Linked DNA regions of Homo sapiens: region 2 is linked to region 1. The links come from fine-mapping of genetic effects on gene expression. Tissue or cell type: naive CD8 T cells. Region 1 holds a variant in brackets; the other region holds the start of a gene. All regions are shown on one strand. Distances are between the middles of the regions.

Region 1 (2,683 bases):
CCAAGGTCCTGAATCTACACAAGACCTTTTTCCCTTTCCTTTCTGCATTTATTTCTTTTTTTTCTACATCTTTCTTTTTGAATTTTTTTTTTTTTTTTTTTCTGAGATAGAGTCTTGCTCTGTCGCCAGGCTGGAGTGCAGTGGTGTGATCTTGGCTCACTGCAGTCTCCAACTCTGGTTCAAGCAATTCTCCTGCCTCAGCCTCCGGGTAGCTGGGACTACAGGCATACACCACCATGCCCAGCTAATTTTTGTATTTTTAGTAGAGATGGGGTTTCACCATAGTGGCCAGGATGGTCTCCATCTCTTGACCTCGTGACCTGACCCCCTCGGCCTCCCAAAGTGCTGAGATTACAGGCATGAGCCACCGCGCCCGGCCTCTTTTTGAATTTTTTTAAAAAAACACCTAAAGTTTAGGAAAGTATAAGAGGCCAAAGAAACAAGAGTTCAAAGAAACAAGAGTGTTATACACGCACACTTGCAGAAAGGTAGTAAAATATCTGTATAGTTCTGGCTGTCAAGCTTTTGGACTGAGATATGCGTAAGCAAGGCAAAAAGATCCCATAGTCCAGGAATATCAACCAGTCCAGTTTCCCAAGGAAACTAAAAGTAACTGAAAATGAGAAGGGTGCCATATAGGAAAATTGAAGGTGGGGCATAATTATTAATACACTGCTTTGGAAATGCTGGTATGGAAGATTCATATATGGACTTCAAAGCATACATGTCTTATACTTAGCTATGGGAAAATTATCATCAAAATCTTCATTTATACAAATCACGGGTATTAGAAATAAAATCAGGTATTGTGTACAGTCAGATCCCAGGTTTACACAAACTAGAGGTTTCAATTAAGTTTCCTTCATTTTATAAAACCATGACACAAGCTGTAAATAAAGGAGCTCTGGCTTTAGGCCTTCTTCTGTTTATAGACAGTAAATTTTAATCCTCTGTCCCTGCAGACCAACTCAAAGCAGTAACCTTGGCTACCGTTGCCGCAGAAGAAACACACCCTGCAGATTTCCAGTTCTATATTCAGTCTTAGAAAATTGGTCATGTTGAAAGGGAAAAAACAATTTTACTTTGCCTCAGTTATTGACACCAAGAAGCACTCCTCAGCCTGTTCAGAGGGGAAACAATGAGTCATTCATGCTGTCAGCCCAGGTGGTGCATGAATTCCAGACAGAGGCCGCTGAATTAACCCGTGGAGGCGTCTCTCTGAGCAGAGCCCGCAATGCGCCTGCTTGGGGCTCCCTGCAGCCTCTGGGGGAGGCAGGGCGGCCCAGAGCAGGCCTGTGCTGGAAAGGAACGCGAAGCCCTGTAACCAAGCCTGTACCTCTGCAGTGCTAGTCCCAAGGGGCCTCCGAGCTGTTTGTCACCATGTGATTGGCTCAGGAGAGGGGTGGAGAAATGAAAACACTCTGCCCAGGATATATTTAGTTGAAGTGCAGCTGGGGAAGTGCTTAAACAAGGGAGCTTTTGTCCTTATGTTGAAGTGTTTTTCTTAACTCCTCAAGGGTGAAAAACTTGAGCCACGTACTGATCCCATTCCCCCCCACCACCCCCAATATATTTTCTCTTCTTTAGGAAATGCTCTTATTCTGAAACTTTAGAATTTTCTAGGGTTTGTTG[C/T]ATAAGAGGAAACTGAATAATTCTGATGCAGAACTGACACAAAATTTAAAGCACAAACTTTTAGTGGGAGACACAGTTAAGAAATTCAAATAATTTCTTAACACATTAGAAGTTTGCATTCTTGCCATTAATTTTCTGTAAGTTCAAACTGGAAATTGGCTATTTTCAAACGGCTTTACTTGAACTAATTTATGGAGTTAAAAACATAATTAAGTGTTATAAGCTGACAGAGCCCTGTTTCACTCGAGCTGATTCACGGTTTCCAGTAATGAAAGATATCCTTCTGCGCTGCTGAGCACAGCTTCTTTGCAACAGATGACTGATGAGCCGTGTAACGGCTCCTGTTCACATCCTCCTCAAAAAATGGCTGAAAACTGCCACCTTGCTGCAAGGCTTTATGTAAATACTGTATATTAGGGCACATTATCTATTATTAAGAAGTAATGTGGCTGGGCACTGTGGCTCATGCCTGTAATCCCAGCACTTTGGGAGGCCGAAGCAGGCAGATCACCTGAGGTCAGTTCAAGACCAGCCTGGCCAATGTGGTGAAACACCTCTCTATGAAAAATACAAAAATCAGCCAGGCGTGGTGGCGCATACCTGGAGTCCCAGCTACTCAGGAGGCTGAGGCATGAGAATCGCTTGAACCCAGAGGGGAGGTTGCAGTAAGCTGAGGTTGCACCACTGAACTCCAGCCTGGATGACAAAAAAAAAAAAAAAAAAAAAATAGCAACACAGGAAATATTTTCCATGAAAATTCCATTTGCAGTTATGAAGCAGGGGCAAAAACTTCTGGACAAGAAGCCCGTGGTTTTGTTGATACTAGCAAAGCAGGCTGTAATAGTGCTCTCCAGAGAAACAGAACCAGTAGGATGTGCATATTTATAGACAAAGATTTCTCTCTCTCTCTTTTTTTTTGAGACAGGTCCTTGCTCTGTCACTCAGGCTGGAGTGCACTGGCGTAATCTTGGCTTCCTGCAGCCTCAACCTCTCCTAGCTCAAGCAATCCTCCTGCCTCAGTCTCACGAGAAGCTGAGACTACAGGTGCATG
Region 2 (2,683 bases), 180 kb before region 1:
GAGCAACCTACAAAAGGCTCTCCAAGATCCCTCATGCCCCTGTGAATGTTCATCTAGCGCAACTTAGGCAGGAGCCTAGGAAAGCCGTCTGTGTCCCCCACCAACAGAAAATAAGGGAGGCCACCAAGGGTCGCCTAGAATCCTGAAGCTCAGCTCCAACCCCTGGTGCAAAGCACCCCTCCAGCGTAATTCTGGAGGCAATTCTACTACCCCCCACACTAGAAACTGCTTCTTTCAGTAGCAAAAAAAAAAAAAAGAAGAAGAAGAAGAAGAAGAAAAAGTAGGCGGGGCGTGAGGGAGCTGCAGATGGTAGAAGGGAGAGGGAGTAGCGAGATTAAAGTTAGACAGGCCTGGGTTCAAGTCCTACCTCCACCACTGAGTTTACCTTAGATGAGCCATTTTGCCTCTCTGAAAATGTTTTCCTCATCTGTGAAATGATTATAAAAATAAATTATGGGAAACGCTGTCAGAATTCAGAGCGCTATTGTTAGTGTTCAGCATTAGCAGAAAGCCAACAAATGGGAACCACATATTTATTTTATATATATAGTTAAAGAGAGGAAAGAAAATTCCTAAAACATGTACCAGGAAAATCCAGACGAGCACACCCCGGCCCCCCACCCACTCTCCCGGGCAGGGCAGGAGGCACACGGCTGGCTGGGGCGCACCAGGGCACCTGTGCGTGCAGGTGGGGCGGGCGCGCGGCGACAGCAGGTTGGCGATGCCGCCCTGTCGGCCGGCGGGGGAAGGAAGAGGGCGGGAGGGCCCACCTGAAGACGCGCAGCAGCAGGCAGGCGATGAGGAGGGTGGTAAAGGCGAACGCCACGATCACGGCTGCCTTGAGGGTGGGTAGGTCGCGGAGGAGGATGGAAATGCGGGTCACCAAGGCGTCGCCACTGCTGTTGGAGCTGGAGCTGCCGCTGCCGCCCGCCGCCCCAGACCCAAACCGGGTGGTGTTCCCGGGCCCCGGGCCGGGCGGTGGCCGCGACTCGCGCTCGGGTTCGGGCCACGGCGCGGAGACGGACTCGGCTCTGCTGGCGCGGGCGGCGGGAGCGGCCAGGAGCGCGAGCAGCAGCAGCGGCAGGAGCGGGGCGGGCAGCGGCACGGCGCGCATAGTGCGGTGGGTCGGCACAGGATCGGGCAGGGCGCGCGCGGCTGAGCTCCAGGATCCGCACCAGCACGGAGGCCTGCACCGGGGGATCCTGCGGCGGAGGCGGCTGCGCGGTGCTTGGCAGGAAGCTGCGGCGCCCGGAAGAGCCCGCGCCACCGCCGCCGCCACCACCAACACGTTGCAAGGAGTCATTCGACGGGCCGCGGCCCCACGTGGGCGGGGCAGGCCACCCGGCCTGGGTCCCGGCTGCGCTCCGCTCGCCCGCGACCCCAATTCCTCGGGACTTGAGACCCCGTGGTGAAGCAGCAACTGCCACGATGACACTTGGGCTGGCCCTGTGTTACACGTTTCACGTGTTTTATTTATTTCATTTAATTCTACAACCCCCTTTGAAGACAGGTATTCTGTTACCCACATTTGATAGCTGACTTGGCACCCAAAGAGCCAGCTCACAGCAACCCACATTGTGTCAGACTAAGAATCAAAAACTATGGGACCTAGAAGTAGACTCCCATCTTGCAGATCAAAAACTGAAGCCGACAGTGAAGTGGTTGCCTGATGTCCTATGCAACGCATAATTTCAGTATCTCCCCTAATTTCCCTCTTTCTCAAAAGGGGTTTCTTATTTCATGCGCCTCTGCTTACGAACCGGACTGGGATGTGAATCTCTGCCTCTCATACCTTTGTTGTGGAACACCAGTTGGTGTGGTTAATGCCCCCCTGCCTGGCTGAAGTTTCTCCGGGGAATAATTGGCTTGCTGCCTCTGGTTTGTAAGCTAAATGATGCTTAGGTGGAGAAAGACAATTAAGGAAGTTCTAGTGGGAGGCCCAAAGGTGGAAACTGATGGGGACACAGAGCCCCTACCTGAAGTACTAGGAGCCATTCCCAGGGCTTCAGGGTTCCCCTTTTACACTGCAGATGGGTCCTGGCAGGAAGCTTTTCGGTGGTGGGTAAACAGTTAAATACACATGACATGACAAGGTCCCAGGGACCTTAAACAGCCCATTTCTGGTCCTGCTGGAAAAAGAGACAAATATAGTACAGTGTATTAGTTGTCTACTGCAGCATAACAAATTGCCCTAAAACCTAGCTGCTTAAAACAACATGCATTTAGTATCTCACAGTCTGTGGGTCAGGAAACTGACCATAGGTTACCTGGGTTCTCTGCTTCAGAGCCTCTCCCAAAGGTGCAATCAAGGTGTCAGCTGGGGCTGGGGTCTCCTCTGAAGGCTCAACTGGGGAAGGATCTGCTTCCAAGCTCAATCAGCATTTTTTGGCCAGATTCAGCCCTGCACTGGCTGTTGGACTGGAGCCTCAGTTTCCTTGGGGCAGTTGGCCAGAGGTTGCCCTCAGTTCCTTGGCATGGGGCCCTTCCAACATAGCAACTTGCTTCATCAAAGTATGCAAGTCAAGATAGCAATAGAAAGAGTCACCTACCAAGACAGAAGTCACTGTCTTATGAAACCTCATCACAGAAGTGACATTCTCACACCTTTGTCATATTCTATCAGTTAGAAGCAAGTCACAGGTTTTATCCACACTCAAGGAGAAGGAATTACACAACAGTATGA

What was found. PIP is the estimated chance that this variant, and not a neighbour inherited with it, causes the effect.
Region 2: it holds the start of FAM174B, and the variant in region 1 is fine-mapped to the expression of FAM174B in naive CD8 T cells (Schmiedel 2018, PIP 0.93).

Annotation. Positions count from the first base shown.
Region 1 is chr15:92,830,648-92,833,330 of GRCh38, forward strand. No RefSeq gene overlaps it. Among named protein-coding and RNA genes, the nearest start is that of CHASERR, 51 kb to the right of the region's middle. RefSeq lists enhancers at 1,042-1,091, 1,472-1,671, 2,428-2,487. The variant C/T (reference allele first, on the strand shown) is at 1,633.
Region 2 is chr15:92,654,546-92,657,228 of GRCh38, forward strand. It overlaps FAM174B (family with sequence similarity 174 member B), which reads right to left and starts at 1,230. Exons shown (of 3, transcript NM_207446.3): 1 at 771-1,230. The coding sequence starts at 1,114. RefSeq lists silencers at 607-676, 727-776, 877-1,076, 1,357-1,406.